Linked DNA regions of Homo sapiens: region 2 is reported to be linked to region 1. Evidence: microRNA targets listed by miRTarBase, many of them from high-throughput screens and not tested one by one. Region 1 holds a microRNA gene; the other region holds the end of a gene's coding sequence.

Region 1 (4,000 bases):
GGATGCAGCAGGCTTCCTGGGCAGAAGGATCCAGCTCTTGGCCTCCTTTCTCTGCTCCTCCCTCTACTGCAGGGACCTGCCCCTCCTCCATTTCCTCCACCTGGAAATTAATGAGCTTAGGTCTTGCCCCATCCGCTGCAGCTTGGTGGTTAATACAGAGCTGGAAATGGGATGAGACTGTGGCAGCGCAGTACGAGGGGGGTCTCTAGGACCAGCTGCTGCTCAGGGTCTAGTGATGGGAGGAAGGCCTGATTTGGGAAGCAGGTTCTTCAGGATGAAAAGCTTAACCCTTTCCATTCCCTGACAGCCTCTTTCAAAACAGTCTTTCCTCAGACCCCCAGTTGCACACATTCTGTTTTTCCTTCTGTTCACATTTTTAAAGGAACACATGTCTCCCTTGGGTCCATGTAGGTTATTGTGCCTCTCCCTTCCTCTGCAGCTCCTGGATCTCTGCCTGAAACTGCAATAACAGCTACAGGGAGGGCGTGAGGTGCTCCTTAGAGCCATGACCACGCTTTCAACTCCGATAGAGCTTGTGAACCCGCTGGGAGCTGGCTCCTTCTTGTCCACATAGCCCAACGACTTCCTTAAGCTTGTCAGGTGCTCTCAGCTCTACAGCAAAGTGTGACAAACAGCTCCCCCTCTCCCTTCCTACCGCCTGCCCTCCTCCCCAAACCTCAAGCAGAACACAATATATCCGCAGTCCAGGCCCTGAGGCAGTCTGCCAGTCTCTGGATGCCAAATTATTATTTTTTTAAGGGCAAACCAAAAAACTCAGCTCAGAACAAAAACACAGTCACGGAGGAAGGTGTTGACCCACATACAATGAGTCCTGAGCCCAGAGAAAAATCTGCACACACAAGCACTCCGCAATGCGCTCCCAGGCGACCCCCTCCCCACGCACACCGCATCTGTGCTGCACAGATCTGCTTCTGTCACAGAATCAGCTTCTGTTTCTCTCCCTGAGTCTGTTTGCATCTCTAAGCCCCTGTCTGTCACAGGCTGCACACCTCCCCACCCCACGGGCTCCGGTGCGGGACAGGCAGCCGGAGGGAGCTCCAGACCCCTCCCCTCGCGCCCGCGGCCGCTGCGCGGAGGTCTGCGGAGGGCGCCTGGCTCGGTCGGTCGCTCCTTCCTTGGCGGGCCCTCGCCGACCCACGGTGCTCAGCCAGCCCCATTCTTGGCATTCACCGCGTGCCTTAATTGTATGGACATTTAAATCAAGGTCCGCTGTGAACACGGAGAGAGAGGCCTTTCTCCTGAGGAAGGAAAGGAGGAAGGAAGGAAGGAAAGGTGAAAGAAAGGAAGAGGGGTGGGTAGAAGATGGAATAAGAAAACCAGGAAAAAGAAATAAAAAGCGGCGCGTGTGCGTGCGCACTGACAGCGGGGAGAGGGATGGGGGTGGGGAACGCCGGAGGAAGGGACCACAGCATCCTCCCCGCCGCAGCTCCCCCAATCACACAGACAATGAGATAACAGCGACGTCTTCCAAAGGCTCTTTGTTCTCCCCCATCCTTTCGCATCCAGGCTTTTTCCTGCAAAGCGGAGGGGGTGGAGGGATGGGGGTGTGGGTGGAAGTGGGAGACGGAGGGGTGCCTCCCCCGTGTTAATTACCCCGGCTCCCCTCGCCCCTTTCCCCGCGCCTCGCCTCCCCTGCAGCTCCAGACAATGAAAAAACAACATCGACCCCACCTCGCCCCAGCGCAGCAACCCACCCACCCATGTCGCCCTCTGCTTCGCCCAGGAAACTGAAGGGGACTAGGAGGAGGAAGAAGAGAGCGAAGGACAAGGAGAGCAGCGGGGACTCGGCAGCGGCAGCCGGGGCAGGGCGCGCGGCCGCCGCCTCTTTACCTCCATCGCTGAGTGGGGGCGCAGCCGGGCCGGGCGTGCCGCAGGGGCGAGTTGCCGCGGTCCGGGGCTGGGACCTGGGGATTCAGCCTTCCGGAACTCGCCTGCTGCAGTCCTCTCGCTCAGGTCCCAAGTGGTGGAGGGGGGAAAGGAAGAGAGACGAGAGAGAGAGAGACAGAGAGAGAGAGAGAGAGAGGAAGAAGAAGAAGAAGAAGAAAAAAAAACCATAAGAGCGAGGCCCATCTGGCCCCTCATCAGCTTTGTCAAGTCTTGCATACGCTAAAATGCTAATGACCTAGATAGCTCATGCAAAATGCAGCAGGGAGGGCGGGAGCGAGGGAGGTGGGAGGGAGGAAGAGAGAGGAGTGCAGGGGGGAGGGAGGGAGGAGAGGCGGAGGGAGGGAGAGAGGGAGAGAGCACCCCTACACTCTCCCCACCCCACCCCCAACTGTCAGCGGGCTTTACCAGGTAAAGGGTGGACGTAGATTTAAAAGGTCACTCGTGTATAATGCGGCTGGATCCCCGGGTCAAAAAAAGGGGGCGAGACAGAGGATGAGAGTCCCTAAAGCCAAAAGGACAATAAGACATCATTTTAAGCCCCCACCCCCATGCCCTCCTCCACCTCTCCACACTGTTTACACACAAATCCTGTCGCCGCCTCATGCATGTGCACGGACATGTCAATTTCTCATCAATTTCTCAGCGCTCCTATCGACAGACACCCGAATTCTCATTCCCAGCAAAACTCATCCACTGGACCCGAGGGAGGAGAAGACCCCTTCTCCTCCTCAGTGCTCTTCGGGCTGGCCCATCCCTACTCACCTCCATCTCCACTCTCTACTCCCTTAGCCCTCCAGGCAGCAGAGGGCTCCTTCTCTTTTCTAAGCCTTGAGTCCCCTGTCCCCTTTCCAACCCCCGCATCTTGAGAAGGAGACGCAGAGTAGCAGGAAAGCCAAGTCAAGTCCACCTAGGTCTCCCACAATTCAGCTACCCCTCCCAGAAAAAAAAAGAGACCCCAACAACCCCGACCCCTCTCCTACGTAGACACTGTGAAAGCAAGCCACAGGGACAAATAAAAGACAATCCGAATACCCTCAGCGTTCCGCACGCCGGGCGGACGCCCTTCCGCAGCGGCCACGCGTGTTCTGGGTTCAGCGCTCCTGCGCGTCCCTTCTCGCCGAACCCAAGGTGCTTTGTCCCGGCGGCCACACAAGGTCTTCGGCTTTTTGTTCTCCTTTTTTAAGAGACTGGCCGCAGTCCCCAGCGATTCAGCCGGCCCAACCAAAGGCAGTGGATCTACTGAAATGAAAAGGATCGAGATAATACACAGGCAGATGAATAAGGGGGGGGATGCTGGAGGTGCAGGAAGCATCCTGGGAGCGGCCGCCACGGCCAAGCCCGAACTGCTTGCTGCCTTCGCTGGGGAAGGCGCAGGAGGCGAGCCGGCGCTGGTGGTCGCTCCACCTGGCAGGAGGAAATGATAACCATGATAAGGAACGTGATGATGATGATGATGATGATGATGATGATGATGAGCATGATTTAAAAAAAATCAGTCTCCCTCTTGGTGAACCAGAGCATGCGTGCCGGAGGGACTGCACTGCTGGCGGCGGCGGCCGGGGGAAGGAGAGCGGCGCAGGAGGCAAAGGTTGAGGAGGCAGCACCCTCGGATGAATAATAACACCGCGCCGCGCAAGTTGCGGAGCCGCCTGGAAATCCAGCCCTTCGCGTGAACTCGCGTCGAGCGCGGATTGCAGGGGATGAGGAAGAAGGGGGAGGGGAGGGGAGGGTGGAGGAGGGAGGGGGAGGGGTAGAGGGGAAGGCAGAGAGGGACAGAGAGAATTGGGAGCCTTTTAATTTTTCCTTACCAAGCCCTAATCTCGTGCGCCGTCCTCTTTGGCTGAGGTCGAGCTCCTTTTTAAAAATTATTACTCCTTTAAAGGATTATTCAGGTAAAGGAAGCCGCATCTGCTGACGGTTCCGAAAACAAGAGGATTAGGAGCCCGTCCACAGATCCAGGCCCGCAGACCCCCACCCCCTCTGCACCAGCACACGTCATTCTCACTGCCCCCGGGTACCTCCCTCTCCTTCGTGCTCGGGGAGAGCTGTGCCAAGGAAAATGCGGATTTGGGGAAAGTGAGAAGTGGGAGAG
Region 2 (4,505 bases), not on the chromosome of region 1:
ATGTCCAGTGGTGAGACCGGCATTCCTCCTCCCAGGGACAGTGAGTGACTGCAGGCCTTGGGGCCCCAACACTCAAAAACAAATGTCCTGCCAAGTGGAGGGCCCGGCAGAGGCTCTTCAGCAATTCCCATTTTCCCCAGTCCTAGCCCTGCCTCTCAGAGAAAGGGCCAAGCTGCCACCTCCCCCTTCTCCCCAGACCCTGTTCCAGGCCCCAGCTGGCTTCCTGGCTGGCTGCTAGCCCTGGCTTTCACCCCAAAGGGAGCCACTCGTAAACAGGAAATGCTTCCCAATGCGATGCCTGCTCTGGGCGCCATCGCCAGCCCACAGGCCGAGGGCAATAGCCAAGCAGCAGTGTTAGCTGTTCCCACCAACTGCGGAAGAGGGGGATGCTCAGGGGCTTCCCAGCTCTGGGGCCCGCCATGACGGAAGAGTTGCCAGGCCTGAGACAGACGCCCACAGGCCGAGCCCACCAGCCTGTGGCTCTGCCTCTGACCCCACTGCCCTCCAGCAGTAACCCCCCTGTGAGCTGATCCCTGACACTGAGCATTTCTGCTCCCTCTTCCCAGAGACAGTCTAAAGGCAGCCCCCAAGTCCCAGAAAGCTGACTCCCCTAGCATCGACTACGCAGAGCTGCTGCAGCACTTTGAGAAGGTCCAGAACAAGCACCTGGAAGTGCGGCACCAGCGGAGCGGGCGTGGGGACCACCTGGACCGGAGGGTTGTCCTCTGACAGGCCTGGCACGGAGGAGGGCCCACCGAGTGGTCCCATGAAACACTAAGGGTCGTCACGCCCTCCCGAGGAGCTCAAGGACCTGCCTGTCAGGACCAGGGCTGGGCCTGCCAACCCAGGGCAGTGTTGGGGCCGGAGGCTGCTGTGTCTGCCCAAGCTCCTCTCAGAGTCCAGTCCCCAGGCCTCCAGCGCTGTCAGCTGCACCCTGGCATTCTCACAGAGCTGGCTGCCCACCCAGTGGGGGGCTATAGCCTCAGAGACCACTCATCCTCTGGAATCAACCTCTTTCTAATACCCTCTTGGAAAAAGAGCTTGCCCCTCCTCCAGCACACTAGAGCTCTGGCCTTGTGTGTATATGTATACATACGTGAACACATGCCTGTGTGTGTGTGTGTGTGTGTGTACTTGTATGCACGTAGGCACCAGCACAAAGATCTGAATGATGCACCCCACCCCCACCCCAATAAAGAAATAACAGAAAACCCTCAACCCGAGCCGGCCTGCTCCTTCCCAGCTGACACGTGCAGCTGTCCGGGGGCCTCACCCTCTGTCCTGGAGATCGGGTTTCATGATGGCCCCAAGGAGTACTGGCTGCCCCAGGGCCTGGTCCCTGCACTCACCTGAGTGGAGCCATGGGCCTAGAGCCTAGGTCCCCACCTCTGGAACCTGCACCCTCCTGGAGAGCACCATGCACTGCCTGCCCTGGAATCCTGAACCCTGCCTTCCCCAATCTGCCTTTCTCATCCTGACTCCCTGGGGCAATGGGAGTTCCCCACTGGGGACATGGGAGCTGAGCCCCAGGAGTTCCTGGATGAAAGGGCAATGCACACTGCAGAACACTTTGCAGATCTCGGGGCAAGGGGAGGAAAAGCCCAGAGCAGTCCAGGGAGGGGCAGGTGCCCCAACCACTGCTGCAGCTGAAAGCCCTTCCTCACCGGGAGTGGTACCACCTGTCCCCAGGCTTTGGGAACCCTGGGCTTGGTCTCCTAATGAGCTTGTAATTGGCTCCCTCCGGCCCATGGAGTAGGCGAGAAGGAGCTTGTGCCTGCTCTTCCCCAGAGTGCGCTCCCCCATCGTGCTGCCCCCCAGGGTGGGTTTCCCTGCCTGGAGTCTCCAGGACAGGCTGCGATTGACATTGCTACCCCATGCACGTGTGTGCATCGCACCCACCGTGGACTCAGGCAGCAGAGACCAAGGACACTCCAGCTCTGCTCTGCAGGTCCGACATTAGCCCCCACCCGCGAAGAAGGAGGTTGTTCAAGGCCCAGGAGACTACCACTGCCCCCCAAATGCCCAGCCTTGGGCACCCCATCCGGGTGGCATCGGCACCACTTGGAGAAGGAGCCAAGGAACTTGGAAGGGTCCGAACTTGAGGAAGGTCTGTGCCTGCGATGAAACGTCCCAAGGCGGGCGGCTCCACGATACCCCGCGCCCTGCTGTGTGCGGTGTATGCCACCCATCCAGCCCATGCACCGACCCCATCCCGCCACTGTACCCACTGCCTGTCTTTAGAAGCGCGAGAAGCCCCCCGCCCCAGACCAAAGGCCAGAAGATATCGTGGAGCCCCTGCCCGGGGGCCGAGGCCCAACCGCCAGTCCCGCTCCTGCGTGGGCAGGGCGGGCCCCGCCCAGCGCCGCCCCCCGACCCTCGGTGGCGCCCGCGCCCGTCGGCCCCGCTCGCCGGACCAGTCTGGCAGCGCCCGGGCTCGGATTTCAAAGCCCTGGTTTCTGGCCGTGAATGGGCCTGCGCCCGCGCGGCCGTTCCCACAGCCCCCTCCCGCGCGGCCCGCCCTCCTTCCCTCCCTCCTCGCGGTCCCCCCTCCGCCGCGCCCACGTGACGCCCGATCCTCGGCGGCTCGGATTACCGCCGCCGTCAGTCCCCGCGCCGAGGCTGCGCCGCGAGCTGCCCGCGCCGCGCCCCCCGCGCCGCCCGCCAGCCCCGCTGCGACATGGCCCGCGCCGCCCGCCGGAGGCCCGCGACCCCGGAGCGCGGCGCGGCCGGCCGCTGAGCGCAGCCTGGAGGCGGGAGGCCCGGCCCGGCCTCGGAGCGAGCGCCCGCGCGGCCTGGCCCCCTCCCTTGCGCTGCTCCCCGCGCTCCGTGCGCCTAGCCGCCGCCGCGGCCCGGCCCAGCCAGAGCATGGAGACGGCGGAGAAGGAGTGCGGCGCCCTGGGCGGGCTCTTCCAGGCCATAGTCAACGACATGAAGGTAACCGGGGCGCGGCGGGGCCGGGCGCGCGGCGACGGGTGCGGGACCCCCCGGGGACGCGTGGCGGCGGGTGGCCGAGCCTCGTGTGGCCGCGCGCCGCGGTGTCTGTGTGTCCTTGTCTGAGCGCGTCCTGCCTGCGTCTGCTGGGCGCCCGTGTCTCCGGGTGCCCGTCTGGGGGTGTGGGTGCTCGTGTGTCGGGGTGTCCGTGCGGTGCCCGCGGTGGCCCCGTGGGGTCCTGACCCGAGCCTGTGCACACGCAGGCTCCCTGCGCCCCAGACCGCCAAACCATGAATGGGGTTTGGATCCAGGACCGACTCTAGGGCCCTTTAACGAGTCCGGGGTCTTACCGGCCTCCGCCCCCTTCCACCACCATGTTCCCCCACGGCCCCGGAGCCCAGACAATGCTGTCACCGCCAAAGCAGGAAAAAATAATAAAGCGGAGAACCGTTAACTCCTTCCCCGCCGACCTAGGCCTCTGCACCCGACCGTGAGACTGCGTCCCCCAGCCCCGCCCCACCCCCACAGCCCCAGGAAGCTCCAGGACTCCAAGGTCTCCAGGCTGAATGTCCCTGCATCCCAAGGATAGGCCTTGATCATCACCTTGGGAGGAGGCGGGATGAAGGTTGGGGTCGGTGGAGCAACCCCAAGGAAGCGCTTTTCCTACCCCATTACCACCCTGGGCTCTCAGCTCCGAGCCCTCCTTGTCTCCCAGGATTGCTTAAGGTCAGGCTGGATCCAACCACCCATTCATTCCTCACCCCACCAGGTGGGGAAACTGAGGCCTGGAAATGGCTCAAGGTCACTAAGGAGACTATTGGACCCTTCCCCTGACCTCAGCCCCCATTTTTCCTCCTGGGAAAATTAGTGGGTTCCTCTCCCCAAATGAGGCCAGGGTTTGGCAGGGCTGCCCTACGCTGACTAGGCAGAGAGGGCCCAGCTCCAGTGATAGGGTGGGGGCCAGGAACCAGTATTCCTGCCCTCCTGCCGTGCCCCCTTTCCTTAGCCTAGGATGAAGGGGCAGGATTTGGGGGCTGGGAGAAGGGGAAAGAACGAGGCACCCCACAGGATCTCCCAAGGGCCCCCACCCCCACAGCCCAGCGCAGATTCTCCAAGTGCACAACACAGAATCCCACCAGGCCAGGGATGGGGGTGACACCACCCAGTACAGTGCTGCTAGGACAGGCCCCGTGAGGGGTGGGGGTTGCTGGCAGGTTGGAGTTCGAGGCTCCCGGTGCTGCCAGGACAACAGCCCCAGGGACAGCTGCCAGATCTCTGCCCCCGGAAGAGGCCTGAAGCCAGCCTGGCCTGGGACTACCCAGTTAGCGGCTTGTAGATGCCCCCCACCCCCTGCCCCTCATGGTGCACTCCCCCTGGGACCCCCATCTCTTGCAACTGTACATCTGGGCCCCTCCGCTGGCCCCCAGCAGTCCCCACCTGTCCTGTGGACATCACAGCCCTGGCCCCAGGATCCTGTTAAGGGACTGGGCAACACAGACCACCCTCCCCTGGCCGATCCCAGAGCTGGCTCCGGATGGGCCTTCCCGCACCCCACCACCCACCACCACTGGCAG

Evidence for each region. Region 1 holds the annotated microRNA hsa-miR-124-5p (CGUGUUCACAGCGGACCUUGAU, at 1,220-1,241, opposite strand). A microRNA usually pairs through its seed, bases 2 to 8, with sites in the 3' UTR of a target mRNA and lowers its output. Matches are read on the target gene's strand: a 7mer-m8 pairs with bases 2 to 8, a 7mer-A1 pairs with bases 2 to 7 and ends in A, and an 8mer does both.
Region 2: miRTarBase lists VAC14 as a target of hsa-miR-124-5p. Seed matches in the 3' UTR shown: 8mer at 1,098-1,105.

Annotation. Positions count from the first base shown.
Region 1 is chr8:9,902,219-9,906,218 of GRCh38, forward strand. MIR124-1 (microRNA 124-1) reads right to left here and starts at 1,254; the gene lies at 1,170-1,254. It overlaps MIR124-1HG (MIR124-1 host gene), which reads right to left and starts at 1,111. Exons shown (of 3, transcript NR_024281.1): 1 at 1-1,111. LOC124902057 (a long non-coding RNA gene) reads right to left here. Exons shown (of 4, transcript XR_007061170.1): 2 at 2,941-3,144; 3 at 2,314-2,410; 4 at 1,852-1,969.
Region 2 is chr16:70,684,152-70,688,656 of GRCh38, reverse strand. VAC14 (VAC14 component of PIKFYVE complex) reads left to right here. Exons shown (of 19, transcript NM_018052.5): 19 at 567-1,218. The coding sequence ends at 729. MTSS2 (MTSS I-BAR domain containing 2) reads left to right here and starts at 2,604. Exons shown (of 15, transcript NM_138383.3): 1 at 2,604-2,934. The coding sequence starts at 2,866. RefSeq lists an enhancer at 570-1,076.